Linked DNA regions of Homo sapiens: region 2 is linked to region 1. The links come from fine-mapping of genetic effects on gene expression. Tissue or cell type: unexposed skin. Region 1 holds a variant in brackets; the other region holds the start of a gene. All regions are shown on one strand. Distances are from middle to middle.

Region 1 (8,103 bases):
CCCTATCTTCTGTAGTTTCAACCACTAGTCAAAATGTGCCACTTACTAGCCACGTGCCCCTGGGCAAACACCGTTCCTCTCTGGGCTTCAGTTTCCTTACATGTAAATGGTGTCACATCCACAGAGCCATGAGGATTAAATGAGATGACTCAGTAAAGCGCTTGGCATAGTAGGTGGTAAGTCTGTGGTTCCACGATTAGTGGTATGAATACAATCTCACATTTACTGAATAACAGTTCTAATGATTTATGGTTATTATTTTTGCCCTAGGTGATTCTCTGGCAGGGAAGTCACCAGGAACCCTCCAGAAGGAAGAAATGTCTAGCATGTCCTAGGTCCCCGCACCCTTGCAAAGACCCAGAGATGAAGCAATGCTGGATAGACCCCACCTGCACACAGAGAAGAAAGGCTGCTGGAGAGACATCATCAGAGGAGAGAGACAGTGGCTCTAATCCAAGAATCCAGGCAACGTGTGTAGGGCTCAGGGTGGCATGTGTGTGTTTTCATGCCCAGCACCAGGACCTGAGCACTGAGAGCTTTCCCTACCTGCCATGGGATCCTGGTATCAAGGTGTTGCCCGAAGGTTTCAGCACCATGTGGTCAATTGTCCATGCATCTTTATGCCAATCTATCATCCCCGCTGCTGGGTCCCAGAGCCATTCAAGTTGGTCTGAGGCATTCAGGGCTTGCCATCTCCCAGTGGGCACAAGGCAGCTCCCCTGCAAGAACACTTCCCAGCTTTGATGACCTAACCCTCCTTGCTGGGGTGCAGATAAAGGACACGGCAGGTGCACTACCTCTGTAACCCTCACTCAAATATGCCAGTCTGTGGGCTCATATGCCTTGACCTCCAAAGCACAGACATGCCAGCTGGGCATAAGCTGGGACCCCTTTGGAGGGGAGCCAGAAGCATTCAGAGCCATCAGCAAAGCAGAGTCTGCCTCTCTGCAGGGAGCTGTCTGTGGAGCTCCCTGTGTGCCCTGATGGTAGGATTCAATCGCTCCACAGAAACCTGGAATTCTCCCTGTTGTCCTGAACTGTGAGAAGCCAAGTCCTGTGTTTTAGATACAATACCATCTGAATTCTGCTCTCACTGCTGGCCCATGTTCTGTGGCTTCAGCCGAGTAATTCCACTCTCCAGGGCTCTTTGTCATCCATCTGTGAGAGCCAGTCCGGGCAGAGAAGGAGAGGAGCAGGGCAAGCTGAGAATGCAGCCCATGATGCCGCCCCGATTATGGTGTTTCCTCACTGGACACGTGGATGAAGCGTGCTCGGGTTTTGACATCTCATAAAGAATGAGCTGACAGAATTGGGTTTGATTCAGTCATTTTGAAAATAAGCGAAGTTGCTTTTTGATATCCTTTTTGTCGAAAATGACAAATAGCTTGCCTTTGTGTATACCTGCCTCGTTTCTCAGTCCGGATATATCTGTTTCTTAGGAAGTGGGGGGACCAGCAGGAGGGGAGGAACATGGCTGTCTCATGGCCCCAGCAGCCAGAGAAAGCCCCCAGGTAGGTGCTGGCTGTGACATCAGGTCCCCGTGCACTAAAATAGTGGGGAGCAAGGAGCATGGGTAGGGCACATGCCCAGTCTGCCCCTGGTGAAATGACAGAGAAGAGCCCTTCCTAGTTAGGCATTCAAATCACGACTGGATCCCCCAATACACAAAGGCGTGGTTGATGTTTCCATGCCAGATCCTAGCACGGAAAGCTGTTCACCCAATAAGCGTCCACCCACGCCCCCACTTCTGGCCTGTTCCACTGATGAAGGTGCCCGTATATGTATCTGTCTGCCCATAGTGGGGTTTCTTTGCCTGCTTTTATTTTACCAGTGGCTACATTTCATCATCCAGCTTCATTTCCCATAGAAGTTCTGAATGTTGTCTGGTTTTCCTCGAAACTATGAATCACACTGTGCACGCCCTACCTCTCTCTAGCATTGTAAGAAAAGCACTCCTCTGTGCAGGACACAATCCTGTCTACTGCCCCTGAGAGCCCTGGTTCATCTCGTCCCTCCATTCCAGTTCCTTCTAGAAGGTAAAAGTTGGAAAGTGACCTGAGCCCAGTGCGGGACAATATGGCAGTGCTCTTCAAGGCCTCCGCTGGAACATCTTGTGTCTCCCAAGCTGGATGCTGTGCCTGGTCATTGGAGAAAGTAAAGGCAAAGCCTCAGGACAGCTTCCAGACACCAGTCTCTTCATCGGGACGAGGTCAGCTGCTGGCTCCCAGGTTGGGTCCAGCTCTTCATCATTTACTATTAGACCCACACAGTGTTTTAAATATTTCAGTGAATTGTGCATATTTAAGAAATGTGAGATTTTACAGAAAGATTTGCATTTCTGGCTTTTCTAAAAAAAAAAAAAAATCAAAGTGTCTTGCAATGCTGGCAACCAGCCCAACGTGGCAATCAGTGCCTGCATTAGCTTCCTCCTTAGTGCCGCCAGGCTGGCTCCTGCAGCCCTGGGAGCCTCAACATCACTAAATACCTATAACACAATAGCCTATGCATCTTCTATCGAAAGTCATGACAGTTCTTCAAATGAAAGTTAGCTGGGAACTATCCAGGATTCTCCCTATACCAAGCTTGTCCAACCTACAGCTCAAGGGCCCATGAGGCCCAGGATGGCTTTGAATGCAGTCCAACACAAATTCATAAACTTTCTCAAAACACTATGAGATTTTTTTGGTGATTTTTTTTTAGCTCATCACTATCGTTAGTGTTAGTGTATTTTATGTGTGGCCCAAGATAATTCTTCTTCCAGTGTGACCCAGGGAAGCCAAAATATTGGACATCTCTCCTCTTTATAAAGCAGGGAGGGTCCTTCTAATTGTAACATCTTATGAATTCTTGAAGACTCTACAACTGTTACTCTCCCTTATTCTTCTTAAGACCAGCTCCACTGTGCACCTGATGCTAGTAAGCGTTGGGACGTGCTGGGAGACTCCCCTATTCAGGGGACAACCCTGACAGATCTGAGCAATGATGACATTTCTGTCCCCAGCTGACACCTGGCTCAGGAGGGACCTGGCTCAGGAGGGACACAGACTGGCCCATGTGGCATAAGGGAAAGTTCCATATGCTTCTGGGAAAGTCCCCCTTGCTCTTAAACAGAGACTGGAGAAATGGCCAGCCTGTCCTCTGAGTGATCTTCTGAGGGCTGGTGTGCAAAGCTGCTGTGGTCAGGACAAGCTGGCTCAGAAAGGTGGCAAAAAGAGGGCAGGAGCTCGGGTCCCCAAAAGCCTCCTGGAACTGTGGGATTCACCAAACCTGAAATGATCCCACCTGAGACTTCTTATATGAAATTATTCTCATTCTTAATTGTTTGAGCAGTTATACTTTGGTTGTTACTTGCAGCCAAAAGCATTTTCTCCAGACTTCTGAGTCCTAAAAATTTCATTCTTTGACACAAGAGCTGACCCAGAGGCCCTGAAGCCCCTCTCAGGCCTGCAGAGCTTTGGTCTGTTTGCTGAATCAGATTCATATCTACACAACAGTTCTAGGGCCAAATTCTGCTCTCCCACACTCCCACCCACTCATATTGGAAGACAGAAGAGTCTTCTAGCTGAACTGTTTCTGGTGAAAGAGTAGCCTTCCTTCGCGGGCACTGACACTGAGGGAAGCAGCTCAGTGGCTACTTCCACCTGCAGATATTCCAGGTGGTGGCTCAGAACAGCTGACAACCATACCTGGGGAAGACTGGCCTTTATTTTTCTGGTTGTTCATACTCCAACAGCTAGCACCGTACGTTGGGGTCCAATGAAGCGAGCAGCAGTAGATGGCATGGCCAGGGCAAGGCAGACACGCTGGAGCAGTCGGGAAACCTGGCATCTACACCCATGCACTGGCACCCTCACCTTCCTGTTTCCCGTGGGAACAAAGTGGGCGGCAAATGCAGGGTGAGATACTGGGTCACTTCAG[G/T]CTCCAACTTGCAGAAGCTGTTTCAGACCCACAATGGGAGCAGGCTGCATCTTTTGCCTACTCAGGATAAAACGTGACACTGCTGCGTCATACAGAGATAGTTCTGCATGGTTTCCTAAGAAAGGCAAAGCCAGAATGCCCGGGGACTACCAGCATTTTACCTGAGTAATTACCATGTGAGCATGTTATCTTCAGGAACAATTTTGCTGTGCTTTAATAATTTATCTCTGAGCTAAAAAATTATAATTGAAAATGATAAGCACTTTCACGAGTTGGGTTGCCACACTGCAAAACCAATTTATTGCACAGAAGATTATAAAACACATTTCCATTCAACTCAGTCTCAAGTGATGGGCAGGTTGGAGGGGCTACAGAACCACAGTAGTATTAGGAAACTGCACAACTCGTATACCAAATAAAAGCATCAAGGATATGGGGGCAGCTGGAAAGCAGCCCTGCTCTGGTTGAGGGTTACTGTCGACATCTCCCTGTAATACAGCAACCTGATTCCTAAAGAAACAGATACAGTAGGCACTTCACTCAAACTAATGCTCTCCTCAGCCCAGGGCAGGGGAGCTCAGCCACAGGCCAGGTCCAGCCTCAGCTTTGCCAGATCCTTGCACGGGTCATGGAGGAGGCTCCTGGACCCGTGCAAGGATCTGGCAAAGCTGAGGTCCAGGCCAGCACAGCCCAGTTCTCTCCTCCTGCTGCAGCCAGGCTCTCAGCACGTGCATTCACCCCCACTGCTTTCCATCTGCCCACTTCTTCATTCATGGCTGTCCTTTCTGCCTCTCTGGTGTCCTGGGGCTGCTTTCACGTCGGCCTCCTCTGACCTCTGCAGGCCAACCACATGGGCCCCATCAGTCCTCTGCTCCCTGACCCTCAGGCATCCCTCCTGGAAGTGTCCAGTGTGTGGGCACCAGGTGGTCCACATTCCCTGGGCCTCTTCCCTGCTCTGGCCTCCACAGGGTTCCCTCCTGGGCCCTGTCTCTCTCCTGCCCAACTCACCGCTGCTCGGTTGCATCCACTCCCCACATGTCTCCTACTGCCCCATCTCGCGGCCTCACAGATGTGCCTGTCCACATCAGGCCTGTCCTTTCATCTCCCAATCAGAGCACCCAGCTGTCCACTATTTCCCAGAACATCTCAGAGTCACCAAGACCCAAACTACTCCCACTTCCTCCCCCAGTCCACCATCCGTCCAGTGATCCACGACGTGCAGGCGGCATCCTTCCTCCCACCTTCCCAGCCTCTAGGGATGATCTGGCTCCATGCCCTGGGCCAGTCCTCTTTTTCCCCGCCCATGCCCCACCTCCACCGCCTCTCACATGGGTGGGCACAGCACTGGTGTCCTGACCAGCCCCTGGCTCCAGCCTCATCCCCTATGCTCCATGCTGTAAGGTGAGATCATGTTGAAATAGAAGCCTGATCATTTGTTTTCCCATAAGCACACACACCACAGTGAAATGCTGCTGGGGCTTGCCATTGATCATAGGATAAAAATCAGATTTTTTTTTTTTTTTGAGGCAGTCTCACTCTGTTGCTCAGGCTGGAGTGGCACGATCTCGGCTCACTGCAACCTCCGCCTCTTGGGTTCAAGCGATTCTCCTGCCTCAGCCTCCCAAGTAGCTGAGATTACAAGCATGTACTACCATGCCCAGCTAATTTTTTCTATTTTTAGTAGAGATGGCATTTCACCATATTGGTCAGGCTGGTCTCAAACTCCTGACCTCAAGTGATCCGCCCACCTCAGCCTCCCAAAATGCTGGGATTACAGGCATGAGCCGCTGCGCCAGGCCAAAAATCAGATTTCTAACACGGCCCTGTTAGCCCTGGGACTTTGGTCCTTCTTGTTTTCTTTTTTCTTTTTTTAATTTTTTTTGAGACAGAGTCCCGCTCTGTCACCAGGTTGGAGTGCAGTGACGCGATGTCAGCTCACTGCAACCTTCGCCTCCTGGGTTCAAGTTATTCTCCTGCCTCAGCCTCCCGAGTAGCAGGGACTACAGGCACACGCCACCACGCCCAGCTAATTTTTGTATTTTTAGTAGAGACAGGGTTTCACCATGTTGGCCAGGATGGTCTTGATATCTGGACCTTGTGATCTGCCCACCTCAGCCTCCCAAAGTGCTGGGATTACAGGCGTAAGCCACCGTGCCCAGCGGATCCTTCCTATTTTCATGTCCACATTCCCCAGCCACAGTTCTGTGGGCCACCCAGTCCTTCCACAAGGCCAATACACACACACGCACACACGTGTGTGAACATGCATGCAGACTGAGTGACTGATGAACTCTTTTAACTGCATTAGGCCTTGGGGAGCTTTGCCCATCTCCCCACTGTAGATTCAGCCTCCTGGTTACATGCTCTCACTGCAAACCTCTCAACCTTGCTCCTCTTCCTCCCAGAACTGAGCATAGTGGTAACTTTGTATATGTGAAATTGATCTCCCAACAGTAAACTGTGAGACAGTCAGAGCTGGAAACTCATCCCTCTTGTCTATTGCTGGCTCCCTAGTGCCTGCTATAGGGAGCAAGTGATCAGTAACTACTTGATCCCAGCCATACATGGGAATCACCTGGGGTGGGGGACAAACCATAGTACCAAGCCCCATTCTGGACCAACTATATCAGACTTGCTGTGGGTGAGGCGCACGCGCACACACACACACACACACACACACACAGGTGATTCTTACACCAGCTCTGAGAAGCACTGAGGTTGGGAAGTGAGAGGTGGAGAGCTTGCTAGCATGAATATTGATGTCACAGCGTGAATCTTCACTGTTCCTTGTTCCTTTCCCCAAGGCCAAATAGAAGAGTCCCAGATGTTCTAACTAGCTTTATTTCCCCAAGTGTCAGCATTTGGCCAGCATGCCTGAAGATCTAGAAACTGCAGCTTCTCTGCCACATACAGCCAATGCTTCACCACCCGCCTTGTGCAGGGAGAGCAAGCCTCAGCTTTGCCTGTACACTGTGCTGTGCACACCAGATCCCCAGCATAGGACAGTAACAGCACAGGCACTGCAGGGGACTTCAGGGAGGCCTGAATGGCCCTGGACCCCCAGCCCAGACTTCTGTGCAGAAGAGTTAAGAGTTATTGAGTGACTGCAACCTAAAGGATATTTCTTCTTTAGGTCATTTAACTACACTACCAGCTTCTTGAAGCCAGGGGCTGCGTCTCGTGGACCTTATTGTCTGCTCAGCAATAACACAGGGCCTGGTGCTTTCTGACGAATCCACACACATGCACTGAGTGGAGCTGCGCTCACGGATGAGCACAGCTGCATCTTTCACGGAGGCTGCTTTCCTGTCAGCTTGCATTTCCCTGGATCTCTGTGTACTGTGGAGTACAGGGCCTTGGGCTGAGCCCAAAGCATTCTGAGCAAAGCATGCATGTATGGGCATGTATGGGAACTAGGAGTTCTAAACGCTTTCCCTTACCCTGTCCCCTTAATCCTCTTACCAACCTGCAAGACAGGTCCTTCCACAGTTTCATGTGAGATGAGTAACGGCAGTTTTCTCAGCTGTTAGGCAAGCTGATGCCTTGCCAAGCTCAAACCTGGAAGACTGATGTTGAAGAAGCAAGGAGGGTTGAAAGAGCCATGAGTGAACAAGGAGCCAGGAGTGATGGGGAGCCAGTAGTGATGGGGGAGCCAGAAGTGATGGGGGAGGAGCCAGGAGTGATGGGGGAGGAGCCAGGAGTGTTGGGGGAACCAGGAGTGATGAGGGAGGAGCCAGGAGTGATGGGGAGCCAGTAGTGATGGGGGAGCTAGGAGTGATGAGGGAGGAGCCAGGAGTGATGGAGGAGCTAGGACCCTAACTTATACCTGGAGTAGAAAGAGTAGGGACATGAGGAGGAGCATCCACTGAAGGAGTTTATGTTCCTTTTTGACCTGATGTGCCTCCAGAAATGGAGCCTGACAGAAACGGGAATCTGCAGCCAAAGTCCTTTGCCCTCTCTTGGTCAGGCTTTGCTGTATTAATTCCATGTTCATGCAAACATCTGTGCATGAGTGTCTATGACAACTGTATTCACAATAGCCAAAACCTAGAAGCAACCCAATTATCCTTCCACAGGTAAATGGTTGAAAGTGGCTCATCCATACTCTGAAATACTACTCAGTAATACAAAGTAATAGATTGATCCACACATCTACCTGGATGCGTCTCCAGAGAATTATGCTGA
Region 2 (8,103 bases), 48 kb before region 1:
GTCTGCTACTTAGGGGGAGCATGGCTCAGCTTGTTATCTCCATAGGGCACTGTGCATGGAGCTTCCCCAGCACACACACACACACACTAAAGCCATTACTTCTTCTGCGATGGATGTCAAAATCTCCAACCCGGTCTTCACAATAATCAGTCAAACTAAAACTCATGAGTTCAGCATTATCCAGACATATAAAGCATCTGAATATTTGCCTGGACTCTACTTGCTTTTAATTTCTTCTTTAAAAAATCTTTCCGAGCCCTGCATATTGCATTCAGCCAGCCCTACCACCTTAGAAAAGTGAGCCCAAGAAACGTGTGCATTGAAAAGATGATGTTGTTAATCTCCAAAAGAGATGAGAATGATTTCATACTGGATGAGACGTTTAGAAATGAATATTTGAATGAGAGCCACAAACTGAGACCCTTCATGACTACAGTGAATTTGGATATCTCGCAGAGGAGATAATGCCAAACCATACACCGGACACACAGCTGGGATTCGCCAGATGCCCCAGGAAGGGTTTATTTAATTCATTCCAACAAATGATCCTATAATGCATTTATGCATTTAAAAGCACAGAGACACAAGTCCTCATATATGAAGTTGTTATGGTTACAGAAAGAAAATAAATATTTGTGCACACAGAGATAGCATGAAATCATTCTACAGTGAAAATAATAGCCTCTGGAAAAAGCTTTGAAAATCAGAGATGGTGCCACCACCAGACAACACAAGTGCTGGGGTACAGGGCAGCCCTCCATGCATCTCATAGCATTTGCATGGTTTGTGAGCCCCATTTAATGACATAAAATGAGGGCACTGAGGGAGGAAAAGTGAACAGACACACAACCCGAGAGCACATTGTTATTTGTTTATTTTGTACAAGTGATGTCATAAGCAAGGATTTTGCCTGTGTTCTAGATTATCTCCAATAAATAAATAACTATGTACAAATATTTTGAGTTTACAAAATAGAAGAGGAAAACCTTTGTCTTACAAAAGTTACATTTCTATGATACATTTATTTCCATACACTGAAGCAGGATTTCATTCCTAGCTTAGCTGAACCAAAGACCTTGCAGACCCTGTGTGGCAGTGTCTAGAGCTGTGTACCTAGCCTTTTCTACCAAAGAGCAAAGCTACACAAAGAAAATTCCTCAGTTTCTTGAAAATAAGGGCCTGACTTGGCCTGCTACTTATAACTGATCTATATTTCATGTATTCCAGAAAATTGGAAGCAGTCTGGAATGGTTGTCCTCAAATTACTGAGCAGACACACCCCCTGCAGATCTTGTTAAATATAGATTCTCATGAACTGGATGGGGTGGAGCCTAGGATTCTGCATTTCTAACCAGCTCCCATGGGCAGGGCAGCTTCCAATTCTTGTTCAGGGGCCACATTCCAAAAGGCCTCTCTGAAATGGTAGAAATTCTCTGAGGACCTGATTAAGGCTAGGCCCTAATTGGGCATCCTCCAGGATCCATTCCCAAGCTCCCAATTCCACAAGACCAGTAGAGCTGGTTTTATTTTGGTCTACCAGTGACAAGGAACAGTGACAGTCAATTGCTAATTGGCATGAATCATGCAGTTTGAAGCTTTCTTGAACTGTCTCCTGGGAGGTGTTTGTCTCTTCTCTCAATCTAGAGCAACCTTCTGAACATTTTCAACACTGTCAAAAATAAGTAATAATAACAAAAAAGGAAATTGCATAAGAAGATTAGCAACAATTACCATTTTTCAGTACAAATCAAAACAGCAACAAAATTCAGGCTCACTGTTTAAAAGTAAAGATAAATACCTCTTTGGGTGTAATTTCTATGACAGTCCAGCAACATCAATTTAATACCTTTTACATCTCAACCTTTGTTTAAAATTATTTTGCTCTGGGAATCTGAAATTTCAGGATAAATTAGCAAATCTGGTGAAAAAGCAAATGGCCATTTTTATTTTTAGTGTTTTTGTTTCTGTTTCATGTAGGGGTTCTGTCTGAGCAGACAGCTAAGAGCAAAAGAAGTAGGGTCAGGCACAGGTAGGGTGACTCAGGTGAGTTGGCCCAGTTCCTGGGAGGAGAAAACTAGGAAGAATGGGGAATAAGTGGGGCTTGCTTCATAAATGTGAGAGGGCTAGGAAAAAAAAATTCACCAAGATAGTTTACCTGTCACATGACAAGTGGGAGTTTGTAGAGAGAGAGAGACCGGAGAGCTGTGCAAAGTGGATACTGGAGACATACAGGTAAGAACAAAGGAAACAAACAAAAACCTAAATACTTAAAAAAAATAAATATTTTAGTCATCCCTAGCCCACGAGGTCAAGGTCTGCCCAGAAGGCTGCCGACCAATAACGCTCACCCTCCTGCGCCCGGTAGTGAGGACCTGGGACAAATCGCAGTCTGTGTCTTCGTTACAAAATTGCCATCATTGCCCAGTGGTCCAGTGACGTCACGGAAGAGGCCGAGGCTCATTCTCCTCCCTCTAATCACCCCCTCGCCAGTTAGCCATGGAATAGAAGAAAACAGCTTGGGGGGTGCGGGGAGGGTCTTCTCCAGCTGTAATGCCAGCTAAGGTGCTTTGGTAGCAAAGCTGGGGGTGAGGAGGCACAGGCTCCTGGACGGAGCCAGGCTCCTGGACGGAGGCCGCTCAGAGTCTCTGCGGCGTCCGCTCGGTCCGCACGTGCTGCAGCACTACCTCCTTGGAAGGGGCCGCGCACTTGTACTCCATCTTGGCCCTGGCGGCGCCCTGCTTCTTGCGCAGGTGGCAGAGGAGCGCCAAAAGCGCCACCACCAGGCACAGGCTCGCGATGGAGATGCCTATGAGCAAGCCCGAATGCACGAGCCCCACGGCCGGAGGAGTCAAGGTGGAGCCGGGCGTCGGGCTGGGCGGGGGCTCGCCAGAGCCGCTGTCGCCACCGTCCACCTTGCCGGAGTCACAGTCGGTGCCAATGTGGCGGGCAAGGGCCGAGTCGGGCCCGCAGATGCACTCGAAGGTACCGGGGAGGTTGTGGCACACCCCGGAGCAGAAGCCGCCGTTTTCGCACTCGTCGATGTCCGTGCAGATGAAACCGTCGTCCAGGATGTAGCCTTCAGGGCACTCACAGCTAGCCTGGGTGTTGGGGTCGCAGTCGGCTGGACAGGCAGTCTGGTTGCAAAACATCTGGCACCTGTGCGGCTCGTGGGGAATGGGCGCGAAGCCCTCGGCGCAGACGCAGAGGTAGCTAGTTTGGTTCAGGGGCTGGCACTGGTACTCGCAGTTGGCTCTGAAGCACGGGTCCACGGGCTCCACACACTCGCCGTCCACCAGGTCGTAGTTAGGGTAGCAGTGGCACTCGAAGCCACCCTGTGTGTTGACACAGCGCTGCGGACACGGACTGGGCTCCAGTATGCAGTCATCCACGTCCTCGCACCGGTGTTGGTCGGCCGCCAGCCGGTAGCCGGTCTCGCACATGCACGAGTAGGAGCCCGGCTGGTCGGGGTTGGGAACGCAGAAGTGCTCGCAGAGGTCGTTGCAGGACTGCGTCGCGGATGCGGTGCAGGAGCGCCCGTCTGCCTGCAGGGCGGCGCCGGCTGGGCACTGGCAGCGGGGAGCCCCAGGGATCGCATTGCACGCGTGCTCGCAGCCGCCGTTCTCCACGCTGCAGTCCCAAGCGCCCGGCGCCTCCCTGGCCCAGTGCCCCTGGACCGCTCCGGGCGGCGCGGTGCACATTAGCTGTAAGCCGAGGGGAGCCACCGCGGCGGAGCTGCCCACCGGCAGCGCCTGGAAGTCCGCTCCGCGGGCCGCGAACGGGGTGCCGTAGGTGATCGAGACGGCGGCAGCCGCGGCGCCGGGCTCCACAGCCAGTGGCCTGCAGGTGGCTGGGAAGTGGAACTCGCAGAGGAAGCCATCGGCCTTCACTTCGCACTGCTGCTCCTCCCAGATCGGCTCGCTGGGCACAGTGGCCTCAGCAGCGGAGACAGCGACGCACAACGGGCCGCAGAGGGGAGCCCCATTGAGGTCGAGCCGTGCCCACCTGCTATAGCTGGTGTTGTTGTCTCCCGTAACCCACTGGAAGCCGCGCAGGGGCCCGAGGCGCTTGGGGTCGCCGCAGCCGGGTGGCAGCTGCAGGCCGATCCAGAGGCGCCGGCGGCCAACGCCGCCGTCGCCGTTCAGTAGCAAGGAAATGACATCGGCAGCCACCGAGGAGCGCACTGTCATTAGGTGGCCCCGCAGTCCGTCGCAGATCTGACTGGCATTGAGGAAGGTCGCGGGGCCCGGGTAGAGCGCGAAGCAGTCGTGCTCGACGCACTGGCTGCCACCCGGCTGCGGCTCTGCGGGTGCGGGGAACCCCAGGCCGGCCAGGGCCAGCGCGCCAAGGACCAGGACCCCAAGCATGTTACCCAGGCGCGCCGCGTGCAGGCGCCGGGGAAAGCGCGGGCACTGCGACAGGGCCGTGCCGGAGCAGAGGGGCACAGGACGCCGATGGCGACAGCCTCTCCTGTCCGTCCCAGCCCAGACACTTCTTGCCGCTGCGCGCAGCCCCTGCGAGGCAGCCTCTGACATGCGGATCGGCCAGGGCTCGAGTTTATAAGTGCCCGGCCCTCCCTCCCTGGACGTTCGGGAAAAGGAAGGAAGTGCCTGGTGGGAAGGGCTGATGCCGCATACTCGGATTGCTGGGTTCTCTGGCCGCCCTTGCGCCCGCCCTCGCGCATGGGATCACCTCGCCGGGATGAGTAAACCCTGCCCTGGCGCAGGGAGGTTCTCGGGCGGGGCCGACAGGGGCAGGCGCCAGGGAAGGCCAGCACCCCTGTAACAAGACGACTGTCCCCGCCCACCACTCGGGCCCCCACGCGTGCAGCCCTCTTTCATCTCTTGGTCCTCCTTTCTTTCTTTTCATACATGTTACAGCCACTTCCAAGGAAAGCCTGGATTGCAAGAGCTCTGGGAACCGGAGACTTCAGAGAAGAGGGCTTTGAATGGGGAGTGGGGGAGGTGGTGCACAGGACCTGCAAGACGCTGGGAGGGGTGATCGGCACCAAGGGCACTTTGGGAGGACCTGCCTAGGACGTGGACTTCCCCGAAGACAGGATCGCAAGGAGAGACAGCTGGATCCTGTCCGCGGCCAAGGTGCCTGGCTCAGGAAACCAGCGGAGCGCGCTTGGCCTCACAGGACAGTGGGTGTGGCTGGGGTGACGGGGCAGGGTGGGGAAGACTGGCCTAACACCAGCGCCCTCTGCCCCATGGCTGGCCAGGGACCCGCGAGTCCCTGGACACGCACTGGCCAACGCCAGACCCCATCTCATCGGGTGGGGAAGTCGCGGGGACACTGTCAGGGCGCCGAAGTCCGGACCCGGCTCAGAGGCGGTGGCAGGTGAATTGCTGCGGCGCCGGGTAGGGGCGGGCGCGTGGGAGCGAGTCAGCCTGGCCAGTTTCGGCCCAGCTTCCGAAGGATGGTGCTTCTTGCACCCCAACAGAGTGGCTGGCAACCCCCCAGGGGAGCGCGCAGGATCCCAGCTGATCCCACCCGGGTCGGCTAAGGAGGTTTCCATTTCGTCCAGAGTCCGAATTGATACCCACGTGCATAGAAACGCCACTTGCTCGGCAAAGGGCACTGAAGAGCCACCGTCCTGTGGATGGGCAGGGTGGGGGGGGGGCTGGAGGAGGACATGGGAATCCGTCACTTTCGACCTCTTCCGGTGGTTCACTTACCGGGAATGCGGAAGAGTGGGTCTCCCCCTCGGGTCGCCCCCATAATGGTGAGAGGCAAACTGTTTAAAAACACCCTTGCCTCTCTCCTCTACTGTCCTCACAACGAGCGCCAGGGGGCGGCGCTGTCGAGCTCTAAACAAAGCCAAGGAAGTTGGAGAAGTTTCGGGCTAAAAAGGGTTAAGGTGTAGGAGCACAGAGTCCTCCTTCTGGGGTTGGAAGCTCCGTTCCCGGGCAGCTCAGCGTGGATTCCGCTGCGTTCACCTCTTGCCTCCAGGGCCCAGTAGATCCTGGGCTTTAAACAAGAACAGAGAGTATGGCGTCTGCCACGTGCGACAGACACGCACCGGTGGGGTGGGCCGGGCTGGACTGGACTGACCTGCAGTGACCAAACGGGTGGGGCGTGGACACTCTGAAAGTGAAAAAGGCAAGCACGACTGTCCCGCCGCACACTCCCCAGCGCCTTGGGGCAGAGAGCCTCCAAACGTCCCGCTGAGTTGAGCTCTTCGCTGGGAAGGCCGCCCCAGCACCCAGGAAACGAAGGAGCTGCTGGACACGGGGGTCTGAAGCTCCCGGAATGCACACAGCTGCGCCTCCCCTGACGCGGACCCCCTGGGAAGAGGAAGGGAAGAGCGGCAGATAGCACAGTAGGGCTTGTCCGGCGGGAGCAGTCAAGCTGTGGCTGCCTAGGCTGAATCAGGGGGTCGTGACTCCGGTGCACAGCCTGCCTACGCGGGACGCAAAAGCAGGGCTGCCTGCGGTGCCGCCATGGGGGTGAGGGTGGAGCTTCAGATAAGGGCAGGAACCTCGTTGGGGCACTGCTGAAAGGTCTCAGAATGTGGGGACAATTCCCAGAGTGAATGAGACAAGAGAGGGGGACAGGATCGGTTACAGAATCAGAAACCAGTGCAAAGTGAAAATGTGGGGTCCATTGTTCAATTACAAGGATTCAAGACTGTGATAGCAAAGTGTTAAACAAGGAATGAGGCCCTGGGGGGGTGATGAGAGGGCCCTTCTGAACCTGCCAGCCCTAAAAGCCACTGAGGGACATTCAAGGATCAGATCTCACCCCACACCAGGCTGGCTGAGTTCTTGGATGGATTCTAGCTGATTCACCAACACAATGTTTCACTGGACGTCCTACACAGGTCCACTTGCACCCATTGCTGATTCTTGCAAAGAAAAAAAAAGTGTGAGAACAGCCCCAATAGCTGAGTCCACTAAGAACTCAGTGATGTCTGTGAAACTTGGATCAACCCTATATGAGGAGGTGCAGATGTTGGATGTTTCTGTATTAGAAAGAAACTAGAGCAACAACAGATAGAAGCAGAGCATTGTCCCATGGGGGGTACCACAGTGTCTGGGTTGCCCTACACAAGGATGGGTGGACATGACCCACTTGGCTTTCCCACCTGTAAGGGCTTTACCCCTGACCCTCAGGATACCTTTGCCTTGTGGGGCCTGCCCTCAGCCGCTTTGTTTTTCCTCTCCAGCCAATACCTTGGAGGCTTTGCATATTTTAGACTACCTTCTGGTGACTGAAGGTCCCCTGTCTGTGTTCTTGCCCCATCCCTATCTTCCTATCTGTGCCCCCTGCACACCAGGGTGGGCCACTCCTTCCTATCCCTTTGCAGATAACACATCCACTTCCCAATGCTTGGCCCAGTTCCTGGCCCAGCACCCTCACTCTGGCCCACCAGCAGACTTGCTTTACTCCTGAAACAGCTCCCTTGAAGAACACCCATCTGGTCCTAAATACTGTTGCCAAAATCTTGTTTTCAGCCATCCTTCTAGAAGCCTTGGTGCCATTTGCACTTGTGACCCTTCACCATTCTCAAGGCTCCTCCTCCAATTACTTTTGAGACACATGTTTTCCTCCCTTCCTCTCCTGTGAGCCTTGGGGAGGCCCCTGGGATCCTCTTGTACCACCCACTAGAGTGGCCATTCTCAAGGTTTTGCTGGTGGTCTTCATCATCTCTTTACAACCCACCTTTTGGTGAACTTACCCATTCCCCTGGCAGTGATAGCAGTGTCCAAGGAGATTGGGGAGGGAGTATTCTAGAAGGGACCCTTACCCCATCTTTCCCAGTATCAATAGTTGGTCCACTGAGGTTTTAAACCATGCACTTGCCTTTGACTTTCTGCTCTCCTTCATCCACTGCCTAGTTTTTGTGTCTTGTTTCCCCTGATCACTGCTCCTGCCTTCTCAATTTATGCTGAGACAGTTGGGTCCCCAGCTCTTTTCCTTGCTGCTTATCTCTCCAGCTCTCCACCGTGGCTGAGGCTACTCTGATCCTCATACTCCCTCAGTGCTGCTCCCACCCGCTGGGAGAGCCCATACTCTTTCCCCTCCGCACTGAAGATGCTCGCGATAGTGCCTCTACTCTGTGGCCACAGATGAGAAAATTTGCACTCAAGGGGCTATGCT

Which allele goes with the higher level. Alleles are on the strand shown, and positions count from the first base shown. SD is a standard deviation of normalised expression in the study named.
With allele T in place of G in region 1, the expression in unexposed skin of the gene that starts at base 4,532 in region 2 is lower (large effect, 0.88 SD a copy in GTEx).

What was found. PIP is the estimated chance that this variant, and not a neighbour inherited with it, causes the effect.
Region 2: it holds the start of THBD, and the variant in region 1 is fine-mapped to the expression of THBD in unexposed skin (GTEx, PIP above 0.99). The same link has a PIP of 0.9 or more in esophagus mucosa and sun-exposed skin.

What each region holds. Positions count from the first base shown.
Region 1 is chr20:23,093,268-23,101,370 of GRCh38, forward strand. No RefSeq gene overlaps it. Among named protein-coding and RNA genes, the nearest start is that of CD93, 11 kb to the left of the region's middle. RefSeq lists an enhancer at 2,872-3,021. The variant G/T (reference allele first, on the strand shown) is at 3,919.
Region 2 is chr20:23,045,141-23,053,243 of GRCh38, forward strand. THBD (thrombomodulin) reads right to left here and starts at 4,532. Exons shown (of 1, transcript NM_000361.3): 1 at 493-4,532. The coding sequence starts at 4,364. The coding sequence ends at 2,637.